2 separate regions of the Homo sapiens genome follow, and region 1 is linked to region 2. A link means that fine-mapping ties the variant in region 2 to the expression of a gene that starts in the linked region. Tissue or cell type: whole blood. Region 2 holds a variant in brackets; the other region holds the start of a gene. All regions are shown on one strand. Distances are between the middles of the regions. Region 1 holds the start of SSBP2 (single stranded DNA binding protein 2). Region 2 has its middle 35 kb from the start of SSBP2.

Evidence for each region. PIP is the estimated chance that this variant, and not a neighbour inherited with it, causes the effect.
Region 1: it holds the start of SSBP2, and the variant in region 2 is fine-mapped to the expression of SSBP2 in whole blood (TOPMed, PIP above 0.99).

Annotation. Positions count from the first base shown.
Region 1 is chr5:81,748,661-81,753,965 of GRCh38, forward strand. It overlaps SSBP2 (single stranded DNA binding protein 2), which reads right to left and starts at 2,437. Exons shown (of 17, transcript NM_001256732.3): 1 at 2,321-2,437. The coding sequence starts at 2,382. RefSeq lists silencers at 1,299-1,458, 1,679-1,728, 2,169-2,218, 2,389-2,718, 2,989-3,338.
Region 2 is chr5:81,783,086-81,788,464 of GRCh38, forward strand. No RefSeq gene overlaps it. Among named protein-coding and RNA genes, the nearest start is that of SSBP2, 35 kb to the left of the region's middle. The variant T/C (reference allele first, on the strand shown) is at 2,394.

The DNA.
Region 1 (5,305 bases), 34 kb before region 2:
ACCAGTCAAGAATTCCTGCTGCCAATTGAAATGAATGGAAGAAATATATTTAAATCAAATAGCACCATCTAGCAGAACCCTGATCTGCTCACGAGAGTAGATATTACTTGGTGTTCAGTTTGGTAGATTTGACAGCAAAGTGGCAATTATTTGTTTTCCTGGTGGGAAATCACAGAATTAGAGCTAGAAAGGACCACAGTTATGCAAGTTCCAACATCCTTGTTATTATCTGAGAAACTAAAAAAAAAAATCAAGCAGTCCTCAGGATACTGAGTGGGATTCAACTAAAGTTCACCCCTTCCTGGAAGTTCACCTAAAATCTAAAATTACTTTGATTCTCAAATTCAGTCACCCCCAAAATAAGATCATGCCTCAATACATTTCAATCACTCTGACTAATGTGAAATTCAAATATTCTGTGATCATTAAAACATCCTCCTTCAGATGTTTTTATCAGGCACATTATAACAAAATGATTAATGCACACAAATGAGACTGCATTTCAAAACTTCAATTCTAGTAACTGCCGTTTCTTAACCAGGCTATAACGCTATGTCTTTTATATACTACTTGTCACAGCAACAAGATCCTGAATGCAGCTCAGAAAATATCTCTTGCAAAAAAACAAAAAAGCCTCTCTAATTTTTGTTTTGTTTTGTTTTGCTTTGCTACATCAAGGCCTGATACCTCTAAATCCTATGGGAATTGAGTGTGTTGCTGCCAACACAAAGATTAGGAAATGTTCCCATCCCTAGGGCACACAAAACTTTCAGGGGGAGACTAACTGCCTAAACCAAGGAGGGAAACTCAGTCGCCTGCGCATTCGGTTTTTATTTACGCAGCTATTTCTGTGCGCAAGGTAACCAAAGTACCTTTGAGAGATGCTCTCAGACTTTTTCTCTGGTCTGAACCCCCTCAGAAAGACAGGGTGCGTTCAACGACAAGGATAACTCTGACCCTCAGAGTTTAAGTGGTTACTGGGAATCACTGATCTGTTGCACAGTTTAAAAAAAAAAGGGGGGGGTTCTTCCTCAGTGATCACAGTCACTATTCGTTCTCATTTTTAGTAACAACCAAATCACCGTTACAAGTACACAAGAATAGCAGCAAACCGCTTTGCTTTGCAGTGTGCCGTGACAGTGGCATCCCGGGCCGGGAGGGGCTCTGTTCTCGCCAGCCGCCTCTTGGGCTCCCACCGAAGTTAACACCTGTATCTCCCCACAACTGTAACCAAGCGGCTCCTTCCCACCTGAACGCTTCTCCCCTCCCACAAACCCCTTTTCGGACCACTGGCCCTCCCCGCCACAGCTGCCCTCCTCGGGCGCCCCCGGCGGCTCCCACAACTCCCCTCCGCGCGCCCCCGACCACCGCCCCGCCGGGCCCGCCCCTCCCGCCGCTCGGGGGCTGCCAGCCTCACAAAAAGTTCGCCAGCCGCCGCCGCGGAGTTGGGTCCGCTGCGAGAGGCAGAAACGCCAGCCTCCTCCAGCGGATCCCGCTCCTCGCCAACACACTTTAGCTCCCCGGGAACTCGGTCCCTCTCCGACTCCCAAACTTCGGCGGCGTCTCCGGCGCCCACCCGCCCCCGCCCCCGCCCCAGCCCCAGCCCCAGCCCCGCGATGCGCGGGGGACTGCGGGCGCCGCGTCCGTAGCTGGCCCAGGAAAGCCCGGACGCCCAACCCGCACACGCCCTCCGCGCCCCGCGCGCGTCTCCGCGCCCCGCGGGGCCCCGCTCGGCCGCTCCACGCCCGGCTTCCGCCCGCCGCGCGCCCGGCACCGCCGCCCTCGCCTCGCCTCGCCCCGCGCTCGCGGCCCTAAGCCCCAGCGCCCAGGCCCCCGCCGCCGCGCTCCCCGCGCTGCCCGCCCCGACCCCGGCCCCGACCCCGGCCGGCCCGCCAAACACCCACATTCCCACTGCGCGCCTTCCTCCACGCAGCTGCCCCTCCCGCCACCCCCGGCGGCTCCCCAGGTCCCCGGAGCCCCGGACCCCAGCTCTAAAGTTACTTTGGAAGGTGAACCCGCGGGTTATTTCCCTCAATCACCCAAACAAGTTTCCATCCTCGCCACCAGCACCACCGCCGCCCCTCAACACACCCGGTCCCTCCCGCCGACAGCCCCCTGCGGCCGCCCGCCCAGCGCCCGCACCTCCCGGGAAAGCGCAGCTCCCCGCACCACACGCCCCCATCGCGGCACCCCTCCCCCTGCCAGCCCACCCCCGGCGCTCCCCGGGCGGAGAGTGTCTGTGTCTCCCAGAGTGTGCGAGTGCGTGCGTGAGTGTGCGCGCGTGTGAAGGCGGAGGTGGGTGAGAAGCGGAGACACTTACTTCTCCCGGGCCTGGCTGTCGGACGGGACGGCGCTGCTGTTACTCTTGCCTTTGCCGTACATGCTTGTGCCGAGAGCAGCTCCCACTGTCACGCACCTGTCAACCCATCACAGCCTCCCCGGGAACAGCCCCGTCCCCATGGCGACCCACGCAGCCACCCCCACTATTGGCCGCCCCACGCCAAAGCTCCGCCCCCTTCGCCCAGGCAACGCGCGAGACTGACAGGCCTCCCCCTCCCTCTGGCCTTCCGAAGCGCGCGGTGGCGGCTAAGCCTCAGCGGCAGTCTCCTCCCTCCTTCCCTCCCTCCCCGACTCCCTCCCTCCCGCCTTCCCTCTCCGCTCTCCTCCCTCCACCCGCTCTCCTTCCCCCTCCCCCCTCCGAACCCGGGCGCAAGGGGGGAATTAGAAACTGCTCTAGAAGGATTTTAAACAACTGGCTGTTCTCTCCGCCGCCACCCCTCCCCCCGCGCCGCCCGCGCTCAGCTCCTCACTGGAGAGAAGGCGCCGGGAGGAGGAGAAACTGCGGCCTGGAGTCTCCGGCCGGAGCCGGCGGAGCTGGAGCCGTGGCGGCCCCAGACTTCGGGGCGCCCGCCGAGTCCACGACAGAGCCACGGCCTCAGCCGCCCTGGGGCCCCCACCAGCCCCTCTCCCGCTCCTCTCCTATGCGTGACCCCGCGCCGGTACCCACGATTGATTTTTGCGGTCCTCAGCCCTACTCCCTGGGGTGTCGCCCCCGCCCTGTTCCCAGAGGGCCGGCTGGCGAGGGACACCCGCGCGGTTCCCTCGACCTTCTGGCTGAGCGACCGACAGCGACTCGCCTTCTCTCCTGGGGAAAGGCTGCACCTCCGGCCCTCGGCGCCGCTGCGGTGGCGGCGCCCGGGGCCGCGCCCTGCGCCCCAGGGGAGCACCCGGCCTGGGGTCGGCCTCCTCTGTAAGAGGTGAGCGGACCTCCCGAGGAGGCCCGGTGACTCCTGCGGCCGCAGCGGCCCCTGCCCCAACCCCTTCTTGCACGGAGCCCCGCGGCGCCCTGGACACCCCGCCAGATCTGCCGCAGAAGAGGGCCCCAGGCTTCCCCACCCGGCCTGGTTTAACAGTTTGGGTCAGTGATGCCTATTCATCCTGACCCCTGGAGTGGAAAAGGCCAGAAAAGGTCTTGAAAGACTTCCCTGTCCTTGCCCGTTAGAATAGGCCCCAGCGCGCTCCAAGGTGTACAAAGCTGTGCCAGGGCTGAAAGGCTGCCCGAGAATGTTTCTGTATCCAAATCCCTAATCCCATTTCAGTAAACGCGCAAAAGTTTCAGAAACACACACAATCTGGTTCCCAGTAGAACTCTGCATCATTTATCTTATTGAAGTCCTTGACTGTAAAATCAGACGGGTGCAAATGGGGTTAGAAAGAAGATGGGCTTCACACGGGGAAGAAGGGGACAGATGGGGTGGGACAGGGCGACATCTGGAAAGGATGAATAGACAAGAAGTAGCTATGGGAGGAGAGGGAAATCGGATTCGCGTGGAGGAAGGTACCGTTCTATTCCACACACACACAGCTTTAAGCATTTAGTAGGAGGATCATAAAATGCATATGGAGATATACAGATAGATGGAAAGGAAAGAAATGGGTGTGAGCATTGACAGAAGTGATAGGAATAAAACATCAACAGATGATTAAGGAAGGGCAGTTAGCAAAAGTGAGAGGTCGAGAATCAAAAACGCGGTTGGCAACCAGACATAAAGACGGGAAAATGAAGAGGAAGGACTTTCTATACTGGTGTTAATGACAAGGAAAAAAACATGAGGAAAGTGAGGTATAAAAAGATGAGAAGACTAGAAGATACAGGATTAAATGAAGAAGCCATAGAGTGTGATAGCAAAAGATTAAAAGTAATAGAGGACAGACATTATCGTTAAAAAAAAGATATAAGAAAAAAAGCACTTTTATTAAAAGGACAAAAATTAAGCCAATAAAGGAAATGAGGGGGGAAAAGTGGGGGAAAAAAATACACTGGCTTAAGTAGATTAATTTCCAAGAGATGTAATTTGCCATTTCTGACTTAAGAATTCTTCTGTCAGTTTCTAATGACCTACAGTTATTGGGTGGTTAGGATATGGCATTCATATTCTTCTTTTTGTTTCTAATGACCTGCAATGATTGGGTGATTGAAGCGAAGCTGAGCCAGTCAGCCTCTCTTAATGAACTTTTGCTCAAAATGCTCAAATGTGTATAAGGTTGCCACAGTTTACAGACTCAACTTCAAGGTTAGCATTATGTAATTTTTTTGTTCAATTATCTACTTCCATTGGCCTTAACCCAGAAAATTTTTAGTATATCAAGGCTCCATCTCTTATAGAATACTCCCTATAAAGGTGCTGCTCAGAGAATGCTGTCAGTTCTCAGAGAGCTCTGGCAGCTTCTCAGACACCCTCCTGCCTGCCCCTGGAAAAACGAACCAAGGGTGGGCTTTGTCCTACTATCCAAAAACAAAGTAGGTATTATCCTTGCACTGGTGTTGGGACTCTCTTAACTATGGTTCTCAATCATGGCACGTTAGAATTGCCTTTATTTTCATTGTTGTTGGGTTTTGTTTGTTTGTTTATATACTAACTGGATCAGAAACCTTGGGGATGGACCCAGGTACCTGCATTTTTTTCATAAGCTCCACGTGGTTCTTGTGTATAACCAGGGCTGCCTGCCTTTGCTCTTCAGTATCCATTTAAAGACAGCCAATGGGTACCATAAGAGATTAGTACAAGACTTTTAGGTTGGGCTGTCCATTAACAAATGACCCTACTCAAAGCATTAAGATGTCTTTACAGTGTACTTTACTTTCTGCCACCAAGCCAACAAACTTGTTAATAGGACAAAAATGTATGCCCATATGTGTTCTCATAGTACAAGATCATGAATAGCCATGGTTTAATTTGCTATTTCCTATAGAGAAAGGAAAATGAAGAAAGAGAACAGGAGAAACTGTTTGCTGTCTACTGCT
Region 2 (5,379 bases):
TCTTATATGTAGTCATTGACCAAAACGTTTATCTACGGCACATGATTGTACAGAAAAAAAAAATATGTTGATGTTTCCTAACTTTCCATTCCTCCCAGGTTATGACTCCTGCTACTTTTGACTGGGCCCTGCCTTCTTACTCTGGTTCAGTAACAGGGCTCCCATTTGGAAACTGGTACGAAGGCCCCAGTTGCCTACCCAGAAACAGCCTCAGGTGTTGCATGGGCAAACCTTACCCTTTGCCTCATGTGGGTGAGCCTATTTGAGAACATCTTAATAAAACGTTTCCTGATCACTATGGACAAAGGGATTTTTATTGTTGGGGTGGCCCAATATTTTCATGCCCCCGGATTCCCCCATTATTGTTTCCCTTTCTCTGATTCCTTGTCCACCATCTGCTCCTCTCTCATGGCTGTGTGTTTCTTCTTTAACGGTTGGGGATCAGGTTAGCAGCTGCAGGAGAACTTGATTAGTGCCTTGCCTCTGTGCAGAAGCATTTCCCTGACAGCATTGATCCTGGTTTCGCTTTGCAGGCAGCTCCACAGAGAGGCTTGTGCTGCAATGGAGGTGGACTGTTGTCTGGTCAATGTGAGTTTGGGGCAGTCTACTAATTCATTCCTCTTTGCTCAGCTGTTAATTTTGCTTAAATAAGAGCTGCCTGCAAGTTTTCATTTAAAATCCACTGCCTGACTGAGACCTTGTGATGGCAAGATTCAAAGACAATTTTTATTGCTAAGTTATTAGTCCTTTGAAAGAAGGAAAATTTGATGTTTAATATTTAAACAGTTTCTATTTTGCAAAATTCTTTGATATCTGAATGTTAACTGTGTAACCATTTAAGGTCCATTTCCACAGACTTTTCCAGACATTTCAAGCATACAGGAATTTATTTGTAATGTTCCTGCATGAAAAATTGCCATCTCTTTTCTGCCATGGTGGCCACTGCCAACAGATATGTCCATTACGAATGAAATAAAGAGGCACTTTATATTTTGATGCATTTCAATTTGTCCATTACACCAGACTGTTCTTTTCTTGAGGAAAGGAACAAATTCCTTTCATCTTTAAAATGTTACCACTTTTTCAAGTTTTGGAAAATTTAACAGAATTTAGCACAGGGAAATTGCATTGTCTCTGGGCAAAGAGAATAACTGAGCATTTTCATTTCAGTTTTTTTCTTGATTTTTGGTTTGATGTTCAGGAGTCATTAAAAAAACTAGCATAAATGTGTTCAGGTGTAGCCCTGACTAAGGGTTCATTTCTCTATGTATTTTAATGATGGTCTTTTAGGACATCCCCACTTTTTTGGAGCTGGTGTTTCCCTTAACCAAAATGTTCCATCTCCAAAATACTGCACATGATAATTTAAAGGCATACTCTATTACCTGTACAAAATTGAACTCAATTACTCTCCAGCCCAAAACAAACTGTTCAACTTTTCCTTTTTGTAGTAGCCATAATTCCTACAAGTTTGTGCCATACCAATATAAGAAAGTGAATTCACAAGCTTCCAGTGGAGTACAATACAAATCTTCAGGTACAACACTAAAGTGTGGTACTAGGAAGAGAAGCCAAAGTCCACTGTGGTTCAAATTAACAAATTCATTCATGAATGCTAATTATGAATTAAACTGTAGATTAAAAAGAATAAAACAAAACAACTTTCTTCCATAAATTGTGTACATTTGTGTAGAAAAAGAGGCAGCCTAATATGGTGGAAACTAATCAGGTAGAAACCTAAGCTTTCGTCTTTAGTTTACTTTGCCAAATGACCTTGGGCAAATCATCCAACCAGTTGGTCATAGTTTCCTTAAGTATAAAATAGGGATAAATTATTCCAGATCAAAGATTATATGAAAACATTCCCAAAACTATAAAGCCACATTTATATATTTTTGGTTTATGGTTGGAGACGTATTTGAAGTGTCTGCATTACTCAGAGCCCCTTTCTCCAGAAACTGCCCTTACCTGTAACCTTTGCTAAAGTGGTAGGCATAGCAGTCAAGTTTGTGCCACCCTCGCTAGTGACACTGGTGAACTAGGGATGGACACCTGAGCAAGGACACTCAATAGCAGTGGGGACTCAGATCTTCTCTTGAAATTAAAGAGACTTAAGAGTTTCCTCAGACAGTAATATGCTGATCATAAGAAATTGAGAACTATGGTAGCCATGTGCAACCATGAGCATGCTGATGAGCAGGCGGAAGGCAATGGAGAATGGAGCAGAGGTACAGAGAGGAGCAATAAGAGAAGAAGCAGATTTCCAGAAAAAAGGAAAAAGTGCCATAGGGTGGCAGGGGAGACAAAGGAAGTACCTTAGTTCTAGGTCCGGTCCTTAATCCAGCCCATGGACTATACAACGATTTTTTTTTTTTCCTAGGATGGCCAGAAGA[T/C]GGCCCATTTTAACCTCACAATAAACTCCCTTGGAATGACTCTTCCTCGTAACCAATAGAGCTAAAACAATAATACCACAATTGGAAAGGTCGTTACCAAGACCACTGCAGATTTTATTGTACAAAAAGCAGAAGTTTCCAACTGTCCTTTGTAGCTACCAGGATGAAACTCTTTCCAGATATGCTTTTCCAGATGTAAAATGCAGATGGGACCATAGACAACTGAGGAACAGGCCCACTTTGCAGCACATAGGTTTACTAAGTAGGTTTGAAAATGTACTTCAAACAATATGAGATGTTTTCCTCCAAAGGAATTATCTCCCTCTGAGTCCCCCTATATAACGTTTCAGAAGCCACAGAAAGCAGCACACTATAGTTGGAAACACCGTACACTTTAGAGTTAGACCCAAATTAAAGTTCTGGCTCTTCTAAATATGAACTCTGGACTTGGACAAGTTATTTAACCTCTCTTTCAGTTTTCTCATCTATACATGAAGAGTAACAATATTTCCTTTCCAGTTTGTTGTAAGGAATAAATGAGTTAATTTATGAAAAAAGCTTGGCACATATTAGGTACTCAACAAATGTTAATCTTCTCCTTCCTCTGACTCACTATGTGAGTCCTATTACTTTACAGCCCATCACTGAATTTCACTCCAAATCAATAAGCATGATTTGGAAGAAAACAGAAATCTCTTTTTGACTTCTTGACCGAGTCAGCCAGAAAGTCTCCTACTACACAGGCTTTAAATAGCTGTCTTGGTCCATTCGGGCTGCTATAAGAAAATATCATAGACTGGGTGGCTTATAAACAAGAGAAATTTATTTCTCACAGCTCTGGAGGCTGAGAAGTCCAAGATCAAGGCGCTGGCAGATTTGCTGCCTGGTACGGGCCTGCTTCCTCTTAGATGGCGCCTTCTCTCTGTGTCCTCACATGGTGGAAGGGGAGAATAAGCTTTTTGGGGCTTCTTTTATAAGGGCACTAATCCCACACATAAGAGCTCTGATCTTTCGACTTAATCACCCTACAAAGACTCTACCTCCTAATACAATCACCTTGGGGGTTAGGATTTCAACACGTGAATTTTGTGGAGATGCGAACATTCAGACCATAGCAGATTAGAATTGAAAAGAGCACCACAAAGGCCTGCTTCCATTCAGATATGCATATTTTGGTCAACAGATCACTTTCTCAGTGAAGTAACATCCGATGCTAATACACGTCCAAGCCCGTGTGTGCTTGTATCTACATGTACTAATAGCACACAGCCAACAGAGTGGCTTTTTTCACCAAATAGATTCAAGATTGACTTGTTAAGCATATCTGCTCATTTGCATGAAGAAAGCTAGAATGCTTCACATACTGGGCACACTACTTCAATCTTCAGCTATAAAATCCATTAGGCTCCATAAGTTATTATTTTGCTTAAAAGAGGAATATTCTTGACAAGGAAATCCTAGGAGAAATGCACTGCATGATGCCACAGGAAATGATTTCTGGAGGACTGCAATGAGTCCAGCCAAATCACTTCAGACATCTCCACAGCCTGTCAGTCCACGTAACACTACAGGAAAACACATGCGTTCATTAAAATGTCTGATTTCGTACATGCTAGATATAGCAAAGAATCTGCTGGAAGCTGGACTTCGGTAGATATGACTAGTTTGCACCTTAAGGATTTAGATTGCATATTCTCAACTGAGGAGCACGAAAAGAAAAGAAGGCAAGGGGATCATGCTCTACTAGCTACACACAAGCAGAATTAGTCCTGAAGCAACCTGAGGAAAACATACAAGAATCATGAAACCCTAAAGGGGAAGATCCAGACTCTCTCCACCCATCCATGTCTAGTCCTGGTACCAGCCCAAATTACCTTGCAGCAGACACAAAATACAGAGAAATATTTATATCCTAAAAGAAGAGTTTTATTAAAAAAGAGTCAAAATACTAACTATACCCTAATACATTATATTCTTATGTTAATGTTCTTTTGTGGTTATGAAAAACCATAGCTCCATAAAGAATAGGAACAATGCACTTCCATTTATATTATTATTCTTACACTGTGCACATTACATGCTAATTCAACATTTGTAAGAGAGATATCAACAGTGACAAATCAAGTTTCATCAGGTTAAATTGAGGATTTTGATAGTACCAAAATTAATAAGTCATAATCCACCAATCCATAGTTTTATACCAGCCTCTGTCTATTTAAGGTCAATTTGGAAAAGTTTTCAAGCAACTACTCTAAACCTAACCCCCTTTTTCATTTTGTTATTTGGTTAGTGTTTAACTAAATAAGTTTATAATATAAGCATTAAGACTATCTAAAAAAGCATCCCCCCAGCACCCCCCCAAGAAAACCCACACTAATTTAGGTTAAAAACAAAGTAATGGCAGCAAAAGTGTCTTTAAGTTTTGCAATAATCCTTCCAGTACTTTTGCATCCCAAAAGGCTCCAGATGTGACCAGCCACTGCAAAATGGTAAGTTGTTTATCAGCATTCTACAATGGGAACTGGCACCTGTAATTTTACTCTTATTTTGCATCAGCATTATTAAAACACGTAAAAAAAATGACCAAGTGAGGGTTTTGTGTAATCACACGTACACCTTCAGGGTGAAATGCTCTGTTGGCTGTCTGTTGTCCTGAAGGTGACGGCTATACCAAGCAGCTTCCTTCTCTGTTGTCTGTGTGTAGCTGCTATGAGCCTCCTTCTATAGGGAGTTTCTGCTGGTAGCAGTGACTGGAAAATAATGTGGAAATGTTGTTCTCACAGCCTGTAAAGAACCGACTGTTGATCACTTTTGATAATGCAAAGGATTACAGTGCTTTTCTTTTTCATTCATTTTTTTCTTGTTTTCATTTTTCTTTCTTTCTCCCTGTTGGTTGCTAATAGTCATCTGTAATTAGAAAGAGGCCCCTTGTCCGCCTCAGTCTGGAGTGAAGGTTTAAGAAATAAACATATTTGAATCATGTGAT